Linked DNA regions of Homo sapiens: region 1 is linked to region 2. The links come from fine-mapping of genetic effects on gene expression. A gene starts in region 2. The other region holds a variant in brackets. All regions are shown on one strand. Distances are from middle to middle.

Region 1 (4,403 bases), 130 kb before region 2:
GCAGAAACTGCATATTTCTAGAACTTATGTTATGTTACATCCTGGCTGCTAATTAGGACCCAGCTTACAGTGGCAGGATATCAAAGAAAGAAATGATCCACATGGACACCGTAGAATGTTCTGACAGCATCCAGGGTGCCTGCTCAGTTCAGAGTTTGCCTGCAGAAGAAAAAAGTTCAGAGGAATGGGACTTAACAAGGGGCCTCCTACCTGTGGATTACAGCAGTTTTTTTTGTAGCCCAATAGCTGAGCAAACATGTGCTCACCTCTGGTGAGAGACCACTCACCTGTGCTTGTCCTTCCTCTTCCATTTCGTCCCAGCATGATACGATCATTTCTTTGCTCACTAATGCACTTAGCTTCTTAGAGGGGCCAGAAAAGGACTGTTGTAAGAGGAAGGGAAGGGATTTTTGCCCCTTCTGGTTTGTCCTTAACATTTTCATTACTGTGATTAAAAAACAATTATATGCAATGTAAAATACAATATTATAAACATTCAAAATAATTCCCAAGTACATAAATACAAAGTGAAAGTTCCCCTTCATGCCCCTGCTTGATCCCACATTCCCCTCCAGAGATAACCACACATCATAGCAGTTTGTGGTACGCCTTGAATCCATTTAGCCACAAATTCTAATGTATAATATTCTTTTTTCAATGTACACAAGTGGAGTGACACTGTTTATATTGCTTTTGTTATTTACAGTATCTTAAAAATTTTTCTCTGCCATGAAATGTATTGTCAATATGCAATACAAACCGTTTGTTATAACTGTCTTAATATTTCAGTTATAGATATATATTATAATTTGTTTGATAATTCCTTTATTTACAACTTAAAAAAAGCCTTAGATGAAGAGCCCTACAAAATTTTTTTGTATTTTCTCAGCCTTTTAATTTTCTAGTTCCTGCTTTTTCTTAATATGCTAGCCTTAAAAATGGGCTCCCAAATATGTCCATGGCCCTAGAACCTGTGAATGTTACCTTACATGGCAGAAAGTACTGTGTAGATGTGATTTAGTTAAGATTCTTGAAATGGGGAGATTATCCTAGGTTATTTGGGTGAGCTCTATGTAATCACAACAGTCATTGTAAAAGGCAGGCAGGAGGAGTCAGAGTGAGAGGTGAAAACACTGTGATGATGAAAGCAGAGACTGGAGTGATGAGGCCCCAAGCCAAGGAATATTGGCTCTCCTGGAGCTTCCAGAAGGCCTCAGCTGTGCAGACACCTTGATTCCAGCCCCATGAGACTCATGTTGGTCTTCTGCTGTGTTAAGCCACTAAGTTTGTGGTGATTTGTTATGGCTGCATAGAACACTAGCACACTTGGCTTAAATGGTTCTATCTTTGAATACATGGTCATACCTTCTTACCAATGCTAAAAGATACTTTTGGAAAAATAATCTTGACTGTCATACAGATGTAGAAATGAACACATACTAGAGATTTGATTCATGAAGGATCAGGCAGAGATAATTACCAGTTCAAATAAAGAAGGCCAAGCAGCACAAATTTACATGGAGTAAGAAATGTTGAAACAAAACTGTTTTTTTTTTTTTTTCTTCACAGAGGGAGTGAGAGAAGTCAAACCTCTACCAGACTAGACAGAATTTGCATGTCTATCTCTTACCTGTAAGTTACAGAGTTATCAAATATCTCAAAAATAATAAAAGTTGAGAATCAGATAATTGCATGGGTTATCTAGACAATAAATGATTTTCCATTGAAACACAATTTTTTCCGTACCATTATCATTTTAAACCAGGGATTGGTAAACTACAGCCTATCGACCTGTGGGCCAAGTCTGGCCTGCTGCTTGTTTTGCACAGCAAATAAGCTAAAAATAGTCCTTATTGATGAACATTTGCAATTGATCTGATCATAAGGAACACAAACTTTGAGTCCCAAGTCAAGTGAAAGGTTATCCCCAAAACAAAGAATCCCGTTTTTCTCATTAGTAGACCTGTATTACAAAAATTTATACTTATCAGTTGTTATTATACTTTGAATTTTGTTAATAAAAATCTAATTAAAATGTGTTCTTTCTTGTTATGTATGTATGTATTTTGGATTTTGCTTCATCACCTGAAGAGCCCAAGCTATTTATTATCTGGTAATTTATAAAAAAAGCTTGCCGACCTCTGTTCTACTTTTTTTTTTTTTTTTTTTTTTTGAGACTGAGTCTTGCTCTGTTGCCAGGCTGGAGTGCAGTGGCGCGATCTCGACTCACTGCAACCTCTGCCTCCCAGGTTCAAGTGTTTCCTCTGCCTCAGCCGCCCAAGTAGCTGGGACTACAGGCACGTGCCATCACACCTGGCTATTTTTTTGTATTTTTTTAGTAGAGACGGGGTTTCACCATGTTGGTCAGGATGGTCTCGATCTCCTGACTTTGTGATCTGCCCACCTCAGCCTCCCAAAGTGCTGGGATTACAGTAGGCGGGAGCCA[C/T]CGCACCGGGCCTACATCTTTATTTTGTTAGTTTTTCCTATTTATTTTATATTCACATCTCAGTATATTGGTTTGCTGCTTAATTACGAAGCATACTTATTTACCCAAACTGTTGGATAATTTCTATCTATTGTCTCTTGTTGTCCCATGAGTCTCCAACAGGCTGTCTGATGACAGGTGCCATCATCTGGGGTGTGGGGGACGAGGGGACGGTTACAGTGAACCCACAGAACAAAAGGGTCAGATTTTTAGCTTTTCAAATATGAGGAAAACTGAAGGATTTGGAAAAGTACATCATGAAGAATGATTGGTTCTCATCCCCTGGGTTAAAGTTTTGGGCTTGGAGAGGGAGAAGGGTAAAGAGATGATACAGAGAATATGATAAAGATGGGGGGCTGGTGGCTCCTGCGATGAGGGAATGAATCCCATGTGCAGGGACTGTGTGGACAGGAGTAAAGCCCCTGGCCAGGAACCCCCTAGTCTCCCTTCCCAGCCTGTTTCTAGTGCTGGGGAACCCAGGGGAGAAAAGTCACCGCTTGTGGATCACCTGATTTTCACTGTATTTCATTTCTTGCCCCACCAAGTTGAGAACTGCCTCAGTTGATCTTCTAGCCCACCTCCTCATCCTGTCATCAGCACTCACTCATGAGCCATTAACCATTAAATCTGACTATTCTGTGTGGCTATCCCAGCCCCTTTTGTTGTTTTTCCTCACAAAGTCATTCCCCAAAACTAGGACAGGACTCTCCATATTTTCAGGAGGTTGTGGGAAAGAAAATGTCCATCATACCCATGAGCTTATCTGAATCAACTCGAGCTCCTTCCTGACTTCTCAACAGATACAAATCCCATGGGGCTGGCCCTCCACCAAGCCTTTCCTATTTTTACTCTCTCTATTAGTCAGGGCTCTCCAGAGAGACAGTGTCAATGGGATATGGATCGATATAGATAGGTAGATAGATAGATAGATAGATAGATAGATAGATAGATAGATAGATGGATAATAGATAGATAAGAGGCTTACTAGGGGAATTGGCTCATGCAATTATGGAGGCTGAGAAGCCCTACTGTATTCATCTGCTTTTACACTGCTGATAAAGACATACCCGAGACTTGAAAATTTACAAAAGAAAGAGGCTTAATTGGACTCCGAGTTCCATGTGGCTGGAAAGGCCTCACAATCATGGTGGAAGGCAAGGAGGGGCAAGTCCCATCTTATGTGTATGGCAGCAGGCAAAGAGAGAGCTTGTGCAGAGAAACTTCTATTTTTAAAATCATCAGATCTTGTGAGATTCACTCACTATTATGAGAACAGCTCAGGAACCACCCGCCCCCATAATTCAATCACCTCCCACCAGGTTCTTCCCATGACAGGTGAGAATTGTGGGAGTTACAGTTCAAGATGAGATTTGGGTGGGGACACAGCCAAATCATATCACCTATGATAAGCCATTTGCAAGCTGGAGAGTCCGGCATGCCTGCAGCATGGCTCAGTCTAAGTCTGAAAGCCTCAGAACCAGGGAAGCTGATGATGTAACCCTCAGTCTGAGGCTGAAGGCCTGAGAACATGGGGAGGCCCTTGGTGCAAGTTCTACAGGCAAAAGGCCAGAGAGCCTGGAGTTCTGATGTCCAAGGGCAAGAGAAGAAGGATGTTCTAGCTCCAGGAGAGAGAAAGAAGGAACTCACCATTCCTCTGCCTGTTTGTTCTAACTGGGCCCCCAGATGATTGGATGCCTGTCCACACTGAGAGCAGATCTTTCCCACTCAGTCTACCAGCTCACATGCCAATCTCCTCTAGAAACATCCTCACAGGCACACTCAGAAATAATGCTTTGCCAGCTCTCTAGGTTTTGCATAATCCAGTCAAGTTGACACCTAAAATCACACTACCTCTATTCATAAGTCTGAGAGGGATCCATTTTACCTGTGGCCCATTGATTTAAACAGAAGGTGAGGG
Region 2 (4,403 bases):
AAAACCACAATGAGATAGCATCTAACACTAGTCAGATGGCTATTATTACAAAGTCAAAAAATAACAGATGCTGGTGAGGTTGTGGTGAGAAAAGGATGCTTATTAGTTCAGCCATTGTGGAAGACAGTGTGGCGATTCCTAAAAAACCTAAAGAAGACAGAAATACCATTAACCCAGCAATCCCATTACTGGATATATACCCAGAGGAATATAAATCATTCTGTTATAAAGACACATGCATGCGTATGTTCATTGCCAAACTATTCACAATAGCAAAGACATGGAATCTATCTAAATGCCTGCCAATGACAGACCAGATAAAGAAAATGTGGACCATGGAATATTATGCAGCCGTAAGAAATGAATGAGATCGTGTCCTTTGTGGGTACATGGGTGGAGCTGGTAGCCATTATCCTTAGGAAATTAACACAGAACAGAAAACCAAATACCGCATGTTCTCATAAGTGGGAGCTAACTGATGAGAACACATAGACACAAAGACGGGAACAACAGACATTGGGGCCTTTCAGAGGGTGAAGGGTGAGAGGAGGGACAAGATCAGGAAAAGTAACTACTGGGTACTAGGCTTGATACCTGGGTGATGAAATAATCTTTACAACAAACCCCCATGACACAAGCTTACCTATGTAACAAACCTGCATTTGTACCCCTGAACTTAAAATAAAAGTTGAAAGGAAGAACCCCCCTGCCTAAAAGTGATGTTCCTTCTGAAAGTAGGAGAGGCTGGTTTGGAACAATGAAATTAGAAAATATGGTTTCATTACCTTTCAGCCAAAGGTCACTTTAATTGGGCAACTTTATTTTAATTAGAAGTTTTTAGGGTCTTGCTGTTCCCAAAATGTTGGTCTTCAAGAAGGTTAATATTTCTGTAATATAGGTAAATTCCAAACTGGCCCTTGGTTGGATATTCCAGTAAAATAAGAGCTTACTGAGCCCCTGCTCTGGACACAGTATTGTGCTGGATTCTATGGGAGATCCAGGCAGTGTGGAAGAAATGGTCTACAATTCAGGATCATAACAGCCGACACAGTAGGGGGCTGGATGAATCCAAGATGCTTTCCTGTATTTATTACTTCCTGAGGGATTTTTCTGCACAGAAAGGTAACTGGAAGATGTAACTCACTAGTTTTCCAAATAATGACTCATAGGGTTAAGACTGGAGTCACAATGCCAGAACCATATTTCTTTTGTTCACACTCTGAGGGGTGTCGTAAATATCACAAACTATTGACTTTTCACTACCTGTTTTCTCTTTTTTCTGGTTAATGATGCATCCAAGTTGGCTTAATGGACAAAGTTACTCACTAATCACCAGGATAGACAAGTAAACAAAAAAGATCTACAGTAAAAGTATAGTGTGGGGAAAATAAATTGGGGCTTTGGTTGAAGTACGCTAAATATAAGTCAATGGTGGGATGTGGCAGGCAAAAGAGATAACGCAATCTGGAATTACTAATGCCCACTGTCTGAAGGAGGGAAGTGTTAGACCAGTGGCTCTCAATATCTTTAGTCACTGATGTATTTGAAAATATGTAAGCTACGAAACTCTCCTAAGAAATAGTCATATACATATACAAATTTGAACAGACTCTTACAGATTAAATGTTCTTACCTCACCACAATGTCCTGTCAATATTGAATTAATTTCATATTAATCATGTCCTATATATAGATGTACAGGCACTGTCCATGCCTATGAAAAAATAACCAGTCTCCTGTTCTCTCCACCCACCTTAGAGTATGTAGGTGAGTGGGTTCTTGCATCATAGTGATTCTAAATGACTAGAAGTGAAGGGTCTGTCTGGCACAGCAGTTGGGGACCAGTACTGAGATTTCAGGACTTCCGATATGACCGTCTTTGTGGATCAGGCTGCCTTTACATTCAAGGTCGGAAGCAGAGGTGAGGATAAAATTCAATAGCTGCTAACTGCATTGCAGTCAATAGACCCATAAAGTAGGGGGGTTATGTTGGAATTTACTAGATAATGAGATGCATCCTAGAATGTTTAGGGGAAAGTATATGGATGTATAGAGTTAACTTTGAAATGCATCAGAAATAAGATGGATGGATGTATAGACAGTAGAGTAAATGGTTAGATAATTGATAAGCTAAAAATGTTAATGGTGAAATCTAAGTCATGTACACTGTAAAATTCTTTCATTTTTCTGTTCCATATTAAAAGTATAGAGAAATATAATTTGGAATTCACTCAGCCAAGTCAATCCCAATGGCAGTAACTAATTCAATGGAAATATTCCATCACTGTGATTATTTCCAGGAAATGAAACTTAACTCACAATAATTAATGCTGATTGTGCTTGTCATTAATCTTTTTGGAATCTGTCTCACTCCATTTTCTCAGTTTCGTATGACAGCCATTCATAGAGAATTGGGTTTTATAGAGCAACACTTTCTCCTCATGCTTGAAGAAGGTGGCTGTAGTGGTGGGAAATGTTCTGTGTGGAGGGCATTTGCTGTTCTAATTTTCTCAAGGGGCAAAATGTAATGGAAACATAATAGAGTAAATGCTCATGGATGTAAAGCGTTTTTAAAAAGTTGCAGTTTTATGTGTTTCTATCTTTCTTGTATTTTTTTTAAGATGGAGTCTTGCTCTGTTGTCTAGGCTGGAATGCAGTGGCCCATTCTCGGCTCACTGCAACCTCCGCCTCCCATGTTCAAGGGATTCTCCTGCTTCAGTCTCCCAAGTAGCTGGGATTACAGGAGCGTGCCACCACACCTGGATAATTTTTGCATTTTTAGTAGCGACGGGGTTTCACCATGTTGGCCAGGCTGGTCTCGAACTCCTAACCTCAGGTGATCCACCTATCTCAGCCTTCCAACGTGCTGGGATTACAGGCGTGAGCCACTGTGCCTGGCCAGCATTTTTTGGTGTTTATTTATAGCATAATTCATTTGCTTTAGATCAAGATAAATAATACCAGCCATTTCTATATGTAAGTCATTCTGTCTCTTCTGGACCCAAAGTATATTAGTTATACCGTCCCTGTGCTTAGGCTTACTCAGTGCTTAGGTCAACAACCTGTTGGCTGTTTTATTGCTTTGTGTTTCTTAGCAGAAGTGTGTGTGTGTGTGTGTGTGTGTGTGTGTGTGAGAGAGAGAGAGAGAGAGATTCTGTCCTCCTTGCCCTGGAGCCCATCACCTGTACATTTAATTTTCATTGCATGTAATGATAAAAGACAGTCCTTTGTTATTTAATTGAAAATAAACCTACTTTTGCTTTATTCCATGACACAATTTTTAGAATTCCGTATGACCTTTTTTTTTTGGAGTGGGGGATAAATTTATACTTAGAGGAAAGTCACAAAAATAGTACAGAGTTCCCAAACATGCTTCACCTGCCTTCTCTAATGCTGACAAATGACATAACCATTGTATAATCACTAGCATCAGGATATTGATGTGGTTACAATAGTGTTAATGAATCCATGGACTTTATTTGTATTTCACTGATCTCCCCACAAATATGGTTCCCTTTTTCTGGTCTGCGATTTAGCCTAGTATCTCACGTTACATTTCGCTGTTGGGTCTTTTCTATACAGTAGTGTCTCTCGTTTCACTTTGCGCTATTTCAGCTACCTGCGGTCAACCATGGTCCAGAAATATTAAATGGAAAATTCCAGAAACACACAATTCATAAGTTTTAAACTCAGTGCCCTTCCGAGAAGCATGATGAAGTCTTGCATCGTCCGACTCCATCCTGCCCAGGATGTGAATCCCCCCTTTGTCTGCCATCTCCACATGGCTTATTCCACCACCTGTGAGTCACACAGTAGCTGTCTCAGTGATCAGATCAACTGTCGCTGTACTGTAGTGCTTCTGTTCAAATCACTTTTTTTTTTTTTTTTGAGATGGAGTCTCACTCTGTCGCCCAGGCTGGAGCGCAGTGGTGTGCTCTCAGCTCACTGCAACATCCGCTTCCCGGGTTCAAGTGATTCCCCTGCCTCAGCCTCCCCAGTGTGTGCCACCACACCCAGCTAATTTTTTGTATTTTAGTAGAGACGGGGTTTCACCATGTTGGCCAGGATGATCTCGATCTCCTGACCTCGTGATCTACCTGCCTCGGCCTCCCAAAGTGCTGGGATTACAGGCATGAGCCACTGCGTCCGGCCTCAAGTCACCTTTATATTTAATAAGGGGCCTCAAAGTGCAAGACGAGTGATGTCGGTAATTCAGAATTGCCAAAGAGAAGCCAGGAAGTGCTTCCATCAAGAGAAAGGATGAAAGTTTGCAACTTTATAAGAAAATTTTAAAAATCATATGCTGAGGTTGCTAAAATCTTCACTAAGAACAAGTGTTTCTTTTGTGAAATTATGAAGGGTATTCTGTTACAATTATTCTATTTTGTTATTAGTTATTGCTG

Alleles and levels. Alleles are on the strand shown, and positions count from the first base shown. SD is a standard deviation of normalised expression in the study named.
As copies of T replace C in region 1, the expression in subcutaneous fat of the gene that starts at base 1,773 in region 2 goes up (moderate effect, 0.42 SD a copy in GTEx).

What was found. PIP is the estimated chance that this variant, and not a neighbour inherited with it, causes the effect. A credible set is the group of variants that fine-mapping cannot tell apart.
Region 1: its variant is the best candidate, but not a certain one, in a credible set for the expression of LINC02296 in subcutaneous fat (GTEx, PIP 0.63).

The regions. Positions count from the first base shown.
Region 1 is chr14:87,738,715-87,743,117 of GRCh38, reverse strand. No RefSeq gene overlaps it. Among named protein-coding and RNA genes, the nearest start is that of LINC02330, 86 kb to the right of the region's middle. The variant C/T (reference allele first, on the strand shown) is at 2,447.
Region 2 is chr14:87,610,833-87,615,235 of GRCh38, reverse strand. It overlaps LINC02296 (long intergenic non-protein coding RNA 2296), which reads left to right and starts at 1,773. Exons shown (of 16, transcript XR_007064294.1): 1 at 1,773-1,921.